2 linked regions of the Homo sapiens genome follow. The protein of the gene in region 2 purifies or fractionates together with the protein of the main gene of each other region. This does not show direct contact. Each region holds a gene or a part of one and is shown on either strand. Other genes may lie near its edges.

The links. The genes of interacting proteins can lie anywhere in the genome.
Region 1: the proteins of LLGL2 (region 2) and PARD6B purify together in Homo sapiens (affinity purification with mass spectrometry; 9 studies listed by BioGRID and IntAct, with this or other methods). This does not show direct contact.

What each region holds. Positions count from the first base shown.
Region 1 is NC_000020.11:50,734,580-50,741,579, forward strand, and holds part of PARD6B (partitioning defective 6 homolog beta), read left to right. Parts: intron 1-3,277; coding exon 3,278-3,500; intron 3,501-7,000. UniProt on the Homo sapiens protein: Adapter protein involved in asymmetrical cell division and cell polarization processes. Probably involved in formation of epithelial tight junctions.
Region 2 is NC_000017.11:75,563,697-75,570,845, reverse strand, and holds part of LLGL2 (LLGL scribble cell polarity complex component 2), read right to left. Parts: intron 7,095-7,149; coding exon 7,040-7,094; intron 6,494-7,039; coding exon 6,339-6,493; coding exon of another isoform or gene 6,304-6,338; exon of another isoform or gene 6,123-6,303; intron 2,371-6,122; coding exon 2,153-2,370; intron 2,075-2,152; coding exon 2,007-2,074; intron 1,869-2,006; coding exon 1,715-1,868; intron 1,626-1,714; coding exon 1,521-1,625; intron 884-1,520; coding exon 591-883; intron 499-590; coding exon 348-498; coding exon of another isoform or gene 336-347; intron 1-335. UniProt on the Homo sapiens protein: Part of a complex with GPSM2/LGN, PRKCI/aPKC and PARD6B/Par-6, which may ensure the correct organization and orientation of bipolar spindles for normal cell division.

The DNA.
Region 1 (7,000 bases), on a different chromosome or scaffold from region 2:
GAACACCTGAGCTCTAGTGATCCGCCCGTCTCTACCTCTCAAAGTACTGGGACTACAGGCGTGAGCCACTGCACCTAGCTGGTCCATTTTTCTCTTACTATTTTCAATTTTTTTTTATCTTTTTAGAGACAGGGTTTTGCCATGTTGGTCATGTTGGTCTCTAACTCCTGAGCTCAAGTGATATTCCCACCTAGGCCTCCCAAAGTGTTTGGATTATAGGCATTAGCCACCACACTGGGTTCCGGTCCATTTTTAGGATCTCTTTTTCTTCATATAAACAGTAATGTTGGCCAGGCATGGTGGCTCACACCTGTAATCCTAGCACTTTGGGAGGGCAAGGTGGGCGGATCACCTGAGGTCAGGAGTTCAAGACCAGCCTGGCCAACACGGTGAAACCCTGTATCTACTAAAAATATAAAAATTAGTGGGGCGTGATGGCATATGCCTGTAATCCCAGCTACTCCGGAGGCTGATGCAGGAGAATTGCTTGAACCTGGGAGGCGGAGGTTGCAGTGAGCCGAGATTGCGCCACTGCACTTCAGAGCCTGGGTGACAGAGGGAGACTCTGTCTCAAAAAAATAAAAAAATGCAATAAAGCAGTAGTGTCAACATTATTATCTTCACACGTGGAAGGGAAAAATAGTAATGATAAAAGAATGGAGAATGTAAATATACCTATAGTTCAATTTGTGGTACCAGCTAGTATGTGACTTTTCTTTGGTAACTGTTTTATCTTCCTAATTGTATCTCTAGTGTTGGGAAGATTCTTAATCAATAATCTTGATGATGTCCTTTAATAACCCTGGAACAGTCTTTGAGTCATAAAATTTCCTAATTATTATTCATAGGCAAATAGACTATGAAAATTAAGTTTGCATTTCTAGAATGTACCAACAGACACTGGGGGAAGGGAGTCCATACACATTCTGGATGGCTAGGGCAAACTAGGCTATGAAACAGTTGTAAATGGTTCACAAGTGAATAATTGCTGATTGAATCTTAATTTTGTCTCTTAGTGTTTTTGTTCATGTAAAAAGTTCCCTTAATCCTATTGTTGTGTTGCAAGAAGCATAACAATTTCTCTTGGGTTTTTTTTTCCCATGCCAATATTGGCAAAAGTGCAAATATACCATGAAGCCATACAATTTTTTATTGTTTTTATCATAACAGTTAAGCAAGAGAAAATATTGAGCGAAGAAATTTCATCCAAAAGCTTTAACAAAAACATTGAAGCCCTAAAATGTTAAATGATCAGATGTTATTCCCATTCATACATCAGGGGAAGTGATAAACCCTGTGGATGAATCAGCAAGCACTAGCAACTTCATGTTGTGATACCAGAATAAAGAAAATGGAGGAGAAACTGTGACTTTTGATAACATCATGAGACTAACTGATATGAAGGGTGTTCCCTGAGTTTTTATTTACTTTGAAATGTGAAGGTGTGACTAAACTTTTTGAGAGCCTTAGGTATGAGTCACCTTATTTTCTTGACAGATGTTAGTGTTTATGTTTCAGGAATGTGTTTTGGGAACTATTTTAATTTTTGTTAGAGGTAAGAGGTGTTTTTAGTGAGTTTTGATGTTAAAACCACTGAGGAGTATGGGTGTAAGCAGAGCAGGTGAACTTTAGATAGAGCAAAACCAGTGAATCCAGATGTCCCATGGGACCTTTGGGAAAATGAAGTGACATATTTGTAAACTCAAATTATTATGGTAGGGGCTTTCTCTACATGATGCTTAAGGCTGTACCAACAGTATTTCTCTTTTCCTTTTTTCTCTGGGACATAATATTTTTACATTAGTATTTCTTGCTAGTAATAGATAGGTGGAAGAAATATGAGTTCAGTGGTTAAACACATTAGGCAAACGTTCGTTTAAATATTTTTAAAAACCAACATAGGGCTTAAATGAGCCTTTAAAGTGCTGGTCTCCGCAGTGATTCCCAAGAGCATAATTATGTAGCGTTTCTCAAACTTACATGACTGGGACACTTTTTGAGGAAGGCAGATTAACTTTTCTTAGGTTTCCACGTTTGAGGAAATGCCATGTTATTCCCACAGTGTTATAAATCCTGTTTATCATGGACTAGATGAAGCCAGTCCTTAGTGTTTTGGTTTTTTTTTTTTTTTTCTTTTTTGAGACGGAGTCTTGCTCTGTTGCCCAGGCTGGAGTACAGTGGCATGATCTCGACTCACTGCAACCTCTGCCTCCCAGATTCAAGAGAGTCTCCTGCCTCAGCCTCCTGAGTAGTTGGGACTACAGGCATGTGCCACCACACCTGGCTAATTTTTGTATTTTTAGTAGAGACGGGTTTTGCCATGTTGGCTAGGCTGGTTTTGAACTCCTGACCTTGTGATCCTCCCGCCTCAGCCTCTCAAAGTGCTGGGATTACAGATGTGAGCCATCGCGCCTGGCCTCAGTTCTTAGTGTTGAATAAGAGTCACTTTTAATTATTTGACATTGGGAAAACAGAGGTGTAGGGAAACAGACTTCAGAATCAGAACTGTGAAGGTAAGTATTGGGCATGATGGAGGCTGTCTTCCTCCCCATTCCGCCCCATTTGTGTGATCTCTTAATACCTCCCTGAAGTAATTATTCTCTTTACCCACTAATTGGTGAGCTTCTGGAGCAGGCTCGAGGCTTTCAATCTCTAGGGCCTAGCACTGTGCCAAACACATAAACACTTTGTGCGTTAATTGGATAGTTATAGGACATACATTTGATGTATTACTGAAGCTTATTTTTTTCTGCATTAACATAGGGAAGATCATACCTTAACGCCACGTAGCTCACAGTTCTTTTTGTATATTTTGCTGTTGATTCTTACCACATACCATGAAATCCTAGTTCCATTTATGGGGGAGGACACTTAAATGCTTTCCTTTGGTCAAAATAAGGACTTGGACAAGTCTTTGGTACCCCATGATGCACCTGAGGAGAGCATTGCCGTCAGAGTCTGGGCTCCAGACAGGGTTTGAGCTGAGTCACTATGCAGAACAGTCCGCAGTAAGGCCTAGGTACCCCAGGGATAGATAGAGTTGAGCCTGCCTCTCTTGAAAGGAATGCTCTTCAGAGACACAGCAGTCAGGAGGCACATTCTTGTGCCTTTCTTAGGCTTTTTAAAATCCCTGATAGTAAGGTTCTTCACAATAGACAATCTTTCCTTAATTAAAAATACTTGCTCTGCTCGTTAATTTTTCTATGGCATGCATTTTCAAATTGGGTCCTTTTACTTTTTTTTTTTTTTTTAAGTAATATGTTTGTTACGTTTATAGTTTGGAGCTGAATTTCGTCGGTTTTCGCTGGAAAGATCAAAACCTGGAAAATTTGAGGAGTTTTATGGATTACTACAACATGTTCATAAGATCCCCAATGTTGACGTTTTGGTAGGCTATGCAGACATCCATGGAGACTTACTACCTATAAATAATGATGATAATTATCACAAAGCTGTTTCAACGGCCAATCCACTGCTTAGGATATTTATACAAAAGAAGGGTAAGTATCACTGTTTAGAAAAATTGTGTTAGAAATAGAAATAGTGTATTTTCCCCACTGAAAGGATACCCAGACTTTGCCACAAACTTAGTGAATAAACATTTTGTGTGAATCTTCTTATGTTAACTAACATGTGGGTTAAAACATTTGTGATATTGTTGGTTTAATTAATATCTTTATGCTTCACTAAGTGTACTTTAGAAAATTTATATTTCTAGTTACTTTTGTGTTAACCTCTTTGGTTTTATTTTTCCTTAAGTAGAAATTGGGAATTTATTGAATATTGGGAATTTATTGAATCTTCACTTTATCAAATGGATTATTCTCCACTCAGAAAAATGTGAAAAGAGTGTGACTTTGGAATCCAAAGCATTCCTGTTTTTTGGTGGCAACCAACTTTCAAAGGCTGTATTTACCAGTTAATAAATACCAGAAACAAAGCCATTTAATCTTCCTGAGTCTCAATGTCTGCACCTATAGAAAGATTATAATATTTTGTAGAATTACTATGAGGATTAAATGAGCTAAGTGCAGTGCCCTGGCTTATAGTAAGCACCCAGTAAATACTTTCTTTCTTTTACTTTTAGGATACTTTTTAAAGAAATTGTATAAAACTAGTTAATTATCTGGAAAATGAGGTGGGAAGTTACTATTGTGGAAGGATGTAAACACTGATATTAATTAGTCTTCCAAAAAAATTGAAATCACTATTTGGCAATAACTTTCTTTCTTTCTTTTTTTGTAAAGACTGGGTCTTACTATGTTGCCTGGTCTCCGGTGATCCTCCAGTCCCTGCCTCTCAAAGTGCTGGGATTATAGGCATGAGCCACCATGCTCAGCCAAGAATTTTCAAATGTATTTTGAGTCCTAAAACTTTTTTTTTTTAATCTCGTAGCCTTTGTGTGTGTATGTATGTGTGTCTGCAGATAGGCAGGGTAGGGCTTATTATGGTATGTACCATTTTTTCCTTTCTCAATTGTAAATGAAGTGGTTTGGGAAGCCAGCATGAGAGCATCAAGCCTGGTATTGGGATAAATTAAAGACTTACGGTATTTATAAGCCAACCCAGAAAGTAGCTTGAGAGCGGCCAGGCTTGGTGGCTCACGTGTGTAATCCCAGCACTTTGGGAGGTGGAGGCGGGCGGATCATCTGAGGTCAGAAGTTCATGACTAGCATGGCTAACATGGTGAAACCCCATCTCTACTAAAAATACAAAAATTAGCTGGGCATGGTGGCACATGTCTGTAATCCCAGCTATTCAGGAGGCTGAGGCAGGAGAATCAGCCAGGAGGTGGAGGTTGCAGTGAGCCGAGATCGTACCACTGCACTCCAGCCTGGGCAACAGAGCAAGACTCCTCAAAAAAATTTTTTTGAAAAGAAAGTAGCTTGAGAGAATGGGTGGGGATTATCTTTGAAGGTGAAAACTATTTCTAATCAGTTGATAAGCATTAGACCACTCCCAGGGCTCTGGAATTCCACTGATTATGTATCTTTGCTTTCCTGGGTTTGGAGGAACTAAAGTCCACCAACAAAATAAACCTCCAAGGATAACCTCTGCCTATATCACTTGACTATTTTACAAAATACTTTCACACACAAATTAATGTTCCCAAAGTTTCCTGAGATGGATCTCAAAGGTAATTAACAGGAATGCGATATAATGAGAGTATGACCTTAGGAAGATTCAGTTGGCTGTTCAGGATGAATTGGAGTGGGCAGCAGTCTTACAGTAGAGAGCCAGGAGCAGGCGGTAAAGAAGTGAGGAGACTGGCCTAGAAGTAGAGGGGAAGGGTGGGGGGAGGGGAGAAGGCAGTGGCGGGAAGGTAGGAGGGGAAATACTTGGGAGTCATTGCACTCACTGTGGCTGCTTTGCAGTGAAGGAGAGTCCAGCAGAGCATATCTTGATGGTTTGAGTCTGACAGCTGGGACAGTGTCATGAACAAGCAGAGTAGATTGATTTGGAAAAGAAAATTATGAATTTTGTCTTAGGACAAATAATCTTAACCAGTCATTCAGAAGATTAGAAATGGTAGACAAAAGTTCAGGGTAGAAATCCAAAAACTAGTTAGATTTGCAAGCTTTTTGAAAAGTGATAGTTAAAATTTTGGGAGTAGACATAAAGGCTATCTGAGATGAAGACCATGGATAGAACCTTGGAAAGCTATATATAGAGTGCTGGAAAAGGAGGAAGAATTTAAATAATTATGGTTGAATAATAGGCCTTTCTTGTTAGCAATTGTAATTTTCTTTAAAAAGTTAGTTGCTGTTTGGATGTGCATTCAAATATAGAGTGGGTTTTTAAAGTATTGCCATGTGACAGAATTTTGTTGGATTATCCCCTTTGGTAGAAAGATTATGACAGTTGAGTTATACCACCACATGTTTTGTTAATGGAATTATACTCTTGCATGATTATGGAATTAATCCTAACATCTTTTAAGGGTAGTTATCTTTTATTTCCTTTCTAAGTTTTTATTTATTGGTGGTATAATTTTTATTGAGACCTTTGATGGTTTTTATTGTTGTCATAGGAATTACAACTTAGAAATATGTTTCTATGTGCAAATGTTTTCTATTTATTAATGGTAAAATGTCCAATATAATTGATAGCCCTTAGAATTTGATTTAGAAATAGGCAATTCAACAGAAATATTTTAGATTTTAAAAATATAAATTTAATACAAATATGACTTTAGCAAAAATGAAAGTAGGTAGTCAGTTCATTCCTGCTTAAAACCCTCTGATGATTTCCCATTGCAACCAGAATAAAATCCCTTCTGATTTGGACTTCCCAACCTCATCTTCCCTCATTCTCTCACTCCCTCATCACAGTCAGCCACACTGGCTTCCTTCCTGTTCCTCAGACTTGATGAGCTTGTTTCTTTTTTTTTTTTTTTTTGAGATGGAGTCTTGCTCTGTCACCCAGGCTGGAGTGCAGTGGTGCAATCTCGGCTCACTGCAACCTCTGCTTCCCAGGTTCAAGTGATTGTCCTGCCTCAGCCTCCTGAGTAGCTGAGACTACAGGTGCATGCCACCATGCCTGGCTAATTTTTGTATTTTTAGTAGAGATGGGGTGTCACCATGTTGGCCAGGCTGGTCTCGAACTCCTGACCTCAGGTGATCCACCCGTCTTGGCCTCGAAGTGTTCTGGGATTACAGGTGTGAGCCACTGCACCCAGCCGTTAGCTTGTTTCTGTTTCTGTGCTCTTATGCTTGGTTATTCTTAAGGACACTTCACCCTCGGTTCTTCCCACGTCTGCCTCCTCCTGCTTAGCTCAGATAAGTTTGTCAGAGGAGTCTCTTCTGACTACCCTAACTAAAGCCCTCCACCTTCCCACCTTTACCACATCATCCTCTGAAGACCTGGAAATATCTTATTTAAGAATATGTTAACTTGTTTCCTGTCTGTCTGGTTTACCATCAGGTCGCAGCATCTAAATCTGGCAGACTTACTTAGTGTACTATAATGCATGCACTCTTTTTTTTGTGGAGTGGGGACG
Region 2 (7,149 bases):
GCCAGCCACCTGCCAGGCCTGCGTCTAGAGGGACCCTTGTCCAAGAGGGAGGTGCCCTTGGGGGAGCCTGCCTGGGCCCCCAGCATGTTGTAGAGAGAAAAAGGAAATCACTAACGTTTACTGGGGATTACTTCTAGGATAAGCATTACAGTTACTGCCTTTCTGCTCAGGAAGCTGAGGCAGAGAGAAGCAGCGTGACCTGTCTGAGGTCACACAATGCGACCTGGACCCTGAATCTTGTTTGTAGCCTAGCAAGCCTGGGGAGCAGGGGCCGTGTGGCCCCCCTGCTGGCTGCTCTGAGCCGAACCTGGGTGCGTGGCCGGCCGCAGCCTCACCTCAGGCCTCACCTCTCCTGGGGGGCCAGCCGGGTGCCGCTTCCGGCTGGACACCCGGCTCCGACGCATCCGGCGGAATGACTGACGCAAGGACTTCTTGAGGGACTTGACGCGGGAGAGTGGGCCCTCCAAGGCCAGCTGGTCACTGGGGTGCAGTGTGCACCTTGGGGGGATGGCAGGCTGTCAGTGCTGCTAGGTCCTGGGAGTCCTCGCGGGCCCCACTCCCAGCCCCGGGACCCAGCCGCCCCTGCTCACTTAACAAAGACCTGCCGCCGCTGCTGGTGGTCAAAGAGGCCAAAGCCATGGCTGGTGCCGAAGGCCACGAGCCGCCACTCAGAGTGCAGGGCCAAGGAGGTGACCACAGCCGGGGGCTGACACTGCACCAACACGAAGGGCTGAAAGCCAGGCTCAAAGCGCACGGGCCCTGAGCGGGCTGCCAGGCGCTCGTGCCCCTTCCAGCGGTAGCCCTCTTGGTCCTGCAGCAGGTCGGCCTCCACCTGCTCCACAGCCTGCTCCGCTGCCTCGTCATTCAGTTCCAGTACCAGCACCTGCGCAGGGTGGCAGGTGGCTCAGCAAGCCCTCAGCAAAGGGACGGCAGGGCCGCAGGATGCTACTAGTGGGGACAGCAAAGGAGCTGGGCCCAAGGCTCAAGGAAGGACAAAGGCCTCTGTCCAACCCCAGCTCTCCTGCATTTTTTTTTTTTTTTTTTGAGACAAGTCTTGCTCTGTTGCCCAGGCTGGAGCGCAGTGGCACAATCTCGGCTCACTGCAACCTCTGCCTCCCAGGTTCAAGTGATTCTCTTGTCTCGGCCTTCCAGTAGCTGGGATTACAGGCACGAGCCACAAATGCCTGGCTAATTTTTATATTTTTAGTAGAGATGGGGTTTCACCATGTTGGCCAGGCTGGTCTCGAACTCCTGACCTCAGGTGATCCGCCTGCCTTGGTCTCCCAAAGTGCTGGGATTACAGGCATGAGCCACCGTGCCCGGCCCAGCCCTTAATTCCGATTTCTGGAGAAGAAACAACCATCCCAGGGACCTCCCGCCAAGGGGATCAAGCCACCTCCATCCACCGGAAAAGCAAAGGACACAGAATGTGCGTTAGGCAGGTGGTTGGCTCCTGTCCCTGCTGTCCCCAGTCATCGACCACTCCTCCCCAGCTCCCCCTCCCCAGCCCAGCCTGCTACCTGCCCTGCCGTGCCTGCCACAGCCAGGTAGCCGCTGTACTTGCAGAGGAAGATCTTCTGGATGCCCAGCCGGGGGTCATCACTGTAGGGGTCAAAGGAGCCCACCTGGAGAAGGGGAGGGGCCCTGTGAGCAGCCACGGGGACAGGACCCAGCTGGCCTCTGCCCTTCCTGGGTCCCAGGCTCCTGGCCTCACCTTGCGGAGTGGGGGCCACTCGTCCTCGCCCTGGGCACTGAAGTTCTCGTTGGGGTCCGTGTCGGTGAGGAACACGCGCACAGTGCTGAGTTTGTAGAGCAGCCGCAGGCAGACACCCGAGGCATCCCAGAACCGCACCGTGCCGTCCTCGTGCCTGTGGGCAGAACCCACCTGCCAGGCGTGAGAGGGATGCCAGCCGGGATGCCCAGGGGCTGGCTCGTCCACCTCAGGGCTCTGCTCCCACCCCACATATCCTACTGGGAAGAGGTGGGGTAGCATCAAAGTACCCTACCCTGTGAGCAGCAGGTCCCTCTGGGGTGGGGCTGGGGTCAGGCTGGTGCCACCATCAATTGGCCACTCCTAGAAAAAGAGACCAAGAAGTCCATGGGAGAGTTTGGCTTGCGGTGGGGCTGGGGCTGGGGCCAGGGCCAGACCTACCATGGTGGAGAAGTGTGCGTTCTGCCGGCTGCCGGCGGCAATGATCCGCTCCCACAGCTTCAGCGGGATGTTGGAGACGTGGTGAGAGCAGGTGATGGCGGAACAGTGCAGAGAAGCCAGGTAGGGCAGCTGGACCGGTGGCCAGCCTGCTGTCTGCAGGTCAATCACCACCAGCTCCTCCTCAGCCAGCACCACCAGGGCATAGGGGTCGTCAAAGGCTGGGGTACAGGGCAAGGGTCAGGGGCCGGGGCCAGGAGGAAGCAGCCCAGCTCTGTGGAATCAGAAGCTCCAGGGTTGGAGCCAGGGCATCTGCAGATCCAGAAAGCCCTGTTCTTGGCTGCTTGAGCAAAGCCTTTCCATCTCCAGGAGGGCAGCAGGTGTGGGCAGTAGCCCTGGCTCTGCATGCAAGGCTGCTGAGAGCTCCCTGGCACAGGGCTCCTGGGGGGATACACCTGGCTGGAAGGCAGGGTCCCAACCAGGATAGGCACCCCAGAGGCATGCAGCTGTGCCTGCCAACCCTCTTCCCTGGTTTCTCCTCCATGGGGCCTGCTCTCCCTGCTCAGATGCACCTGTCAAGCCTCTCCCCACAGGCAGCAGCACGCGTGGTCTTCAGCACACCAGTTGCTAGGGGTGGCATTTTCTTTACTGCACACAATCACATCACCTCACTCAGGCCTGGACCCAGCTAGTGCTCAATAAATGTGCGCTGGATGATTAAACCATTTGTCTTTTTTTTTTTTTTTCTTTTCTCGAGACAGGGTTTCACACTCTGTCGCCCAGGCTGGAGTACAGTGGTGTGATCTCGGCTCATTGCAACCTCCACCTCCAGGTTCAAGCGATCCTCCTGCCTCAGGCTCCCAAGTAGCTGGGATTACAGGTGTGAGCCACGATACCCAGCTAACTTTTGTATTTTTGGTAGAGACAGGGTTTCGCCATGTTGCTCAGGCTGGTGTTGAACTCCTGGGCTCAAGTGATCTTCCCACCTTGGCCTCCCAAAATGCTGGGATTACAGGCATGAGCCACTGTGCCCAGTCTTTTTTTTCTCTTTTTTTTTTGAGATGGAGTCTTGCTCTGTCACCCAGGCTGGAGTGTAGTGGTGCGATCTCAGCTCACTGCAACCTCCGCCTCCCGGGTTCAAGCGATTCTCCTGCCTCAGCTTCCCAAGTAGCTGGGATTACAGGCACTCACCACCACGCCTGGCTAATTTTTGTTTTTCTTTTTTATTTTTTGAGACGGAGTTTCGCTCTTGTTGCCCAGGCTGGAGTGCAATGGCATGATCTCGGCTCACTGCAACCTCTGCCTCCCGGGTTCAAGAGATTCTCCTGCCTCAGCCTCTCGAGTAGCTGGGATTACAGGCACATACCACCAATGCCTGGCTAATTTTTTATTTTTAGTAGAGACAGGGTTTCACCATGTTGGCCAGGCTAGTCTCGAACCCCTAACCTCAGGTGATCTGCCATCCTTGGCCTCCCAAAGTGCTAGGATTACAGCTGAGCCACTGCCCCTGGCTGACGCTGCCTCTTTGAAGTGCTTGTCTTCCCTGCTACTCTGGGGTCTGCTGCCCGCTGGCTGCTCCCAGGTGTTCTTTGCCAGATCCCCACCAAACTTCATGCCTCCAAGGCTTGAGGGTGCCCGGGCTCAGCTGTCCCATGGCTTCTCTTCTGTCTTCCTTACCACCTGGGCAGCCTCATCAGGGCCCCTGGTTTCACATCTCTTTTTTTCTTTAAACCTCAAAATCATTGAGCAGCCTTCACACATCTCTGCGTGGATGACTCCAAATGGACACCTTCCCGATCTCTCCTCTGAACTCCAGACCCATAAGCCCCAGTTGTCTACTCAGCATCTCCCTTATGGGTCTGGAGATCAGAGGAGACATTAAGTCCTCAGACTTGATCCCCGCCCAGCTGAGCTTGCTGCACCCTCTTGCCACTACCTTCTCCAGGATTCCTGGTGCTCCCAGCAAACCCTCACGTCATCCTTGACTGATCTCTCCTCCCCTCGTTTACCTCTCCCTAGACAAGGGGCCAAGAAATTACAGCCTGAGGACCAAATCTGGCCTCCTGCCTATTCCTGTCAATATGGCTGTCCTGGAACACGGATACGCCCCTTGTGTTGTCCATGGCTACATGTGCTCTGCAATGGCATTAGGCTGAGTAGCTGTGGGGAAGAAAGCCACCCAGCCCTTTATAGCAACAGTCTGTGAGCCCTGACCTGGCCCCTGAGCCAATGCTGAATGTTAGAAAAGACAGCGTAACCCCAGCCACCTCCTGCCAGTCCCATGGCCTGCACCGCAGCCCAAGCTGAGGTCACCTCTCCCTCGACTCTCACTGGGCTCCCGTCTTTGCTCCACTCCGTGTCCCCCACATGGCAGCCAGACAGATCCTTCTGGAGCAGAGGCTAGATCATGGCACCCCTGCTCAGGGCCCTCATCTCCCTCAAACCCCAAGTCCTTACCGTGCCTCCACGGCTCTATACGATCTGGCGCTGGCCACATCTGGACCAGCACGGGGGCCATTCTGCCCTCTCTTCGCCCCTACCTCATTGGAGCAAGCCAAGAGCCCTCCCAGCTCAGTCTGCACCCCAGGTCCCTACAGGGCAAGCCTTCCATCAGACTGCTTCCGTGTCTGCGCAAATACGTCCCCTTATCAGGGAGGCCTTGCCAACCCTTGTCTAAACCAGCACTGCTGTCCTCTGCCTGGCTTTTTTCTTACCTCTGACATTATCTGGCAACCTACTCACTCTGTCCACATACTCAGATCTAAGTTCCATGGGAACAGGGGCCTCATCTGTTTCTAGAACAGGGCCTGGCATATAGCAGTTGCTCATTAAACAGGAGAGCCTACCAAGGACAGCTGGGTCACAACCCGGCACAGCAGAACCATTACGTGAGAGCTTCAGGGTGCCCACATATCATCTGAGGGAAGCACCGCTCATCAGGCACCCACCTCCTGGCCTGCGGGACTGCGGGGAGTTGGGGACACAGAGGGACAATTGCAGGAAGGTGGCCTGTCCTAGAAAGCCCCAGCAGTCTCGAATTTGTAGCTCAGCAAGTTTCTTCCCTCCCTTCCTGACCTTTCCGCTGGGAATCAGGTAACTCAGTTAGCCCGGGGAGTGTGGCCACCATAGCCCAAGAGGCCCCCGCTCTGTGCCAACATGGCCCAAATGTTGTGGAAAGAGCAGAGCTGGGCCCTGCTCTCAGCATCCAGGGTGTGAGGAGGGAGGAGAGGCTGAGAAAGAAAGAAAAGCAGGTTTGGGGTTCCCCTGAACAGGGTAGATAGAGGCCGTGAGTACACAGACCAGGTGTCCTGAACAGCCCCGCCCCCTCACCTTTCGGCCTCAGGCCCTTTCAGGCCAGCATCATTAGGAGAGGGCCCTCCCTCCTGGAGAGCTCCTGCAGGGCTCCTCTCCAGGTTTCAACATCAGCCCTTTCTGGTCTTGCCTGTCACACAATTTACGAGGCTGACTCAGGGCTCTGCCGGTCCTGCTGGAGCTCCAGGAGGCTGCACAGCCACCTTCTGCCCTGCCCAGAAGGCGGGCTTTGCCATCTCTAAGCCAGGACCCTCTTGCCTCAGCGGGGTGGGTGTTAAATCCAACAGTACAGATCAGCCCCCTGTGGGCTAAGTCCCATTACAGTCTGGAAAGGGCAGAGAGCCCGGGGCAGACAGGAGGTGTGGCTGGGCTGGGTCTCTAGCTGGGGAGGGTGGCAGGGAGGCAGAGAAAGGAGCTGTAGGGCTTGATGACACTGCACCTTGGGGTGCAGTGAGGCTAAGGGACTCAGGACAGTGGTAGGCTTAGGAACATCTGTGCAGAGCCCTTTTTTTTTTTTTTTTTGAGACACAGTCTGGCTATGTCACCCAGGCTGAGTACAGTAGCATGATCCTGGTTCGCTGCAACCTCCACCTCCCAGGCTCAAGTGATCCTCCCACCTCAGCCTCCTGAGTAGCTAGGACTACAGGTACGTGCCACAACACCTGGCTAATTTTTTTATTTTTTGTAGAGACAAGGGTCTCCCTACGTTGTCCAGGCTGGACTTGAACTCCTGGGTTCAAGCGATCCTACCACCTTGGCCTCCCACAGCACTGGGGTTACAGGCAGGAGCCACTGCACCTGGCCCTGTCTTTACTGATGGTCCTGCCCCATGCCTCCCACACCTAACCCTGGGCACCCACTCCCGAAGCTCTCCTACTGGCTGCAGGGTCTGCCTCTGTGAGGACAGTGAAGCCGATGACACGGGAGGTGAAGTCGAAGGCCGTCTGCTGGCCATCGTGGATCACTGAGATGCAGTGGCGGTCCCCGTAGCTGGCCCGTGGCATGCCACCCTGGAAGATGGTGAAGGGCAACCTGGCAGGCACAGAGGAGCGGCAGTGGGCTGGGGCTCCTGGCACAGCCTCAACAGCCACAGGCCGGCAATCAAAGTCACCACTCAGTCAAGGTCCCCAGGAGCAGGGGAGACTGGACCCCATCTCCTTCCAACTGCTACAGCCCAGGAGGACTTGGAGGTAAGGTGAGGGCATCCAGGCTGGGGGCTCTGAGTCTCAGCAGCCACTCCTGCCTCATGCTGGGTGCCCCCACCAATTCTGTTTGAACATCACCCAGAGTGATTTTGTCTGAAGAAACAGGGCTGCCAACTAAAGGAGTTTAAGACCTGCTGCTCAGTACCGTCTCTCTGGGAAGGTGGAAGAAAGGAGCAAGAATGAACTTGGCAGGAATTGGGCCGCTGAGAGACGTGAATAGCGTCTACCCTGTCTCCCCTCCCTGGTGTCCAAGACCCCAACACGGGACCTGAGAGTGTTCACTGGCACCAACTTCCCAGGCAGAGGCCTAAGTGACCTTTCTAGCCCTCCAGGAAGGCTCTGGAGAGGAAAGAGGACCAGCATGGATACCTACCCCTGCCTAGTGGTCAGCCAGAGGATTCTGGTAATCGCTTTGCAAGGAAAGGGACCTGAAAGGAAAGGAATCGGCTTGAACGGATCCTCAAACTCTCAGACAAGTGTCAG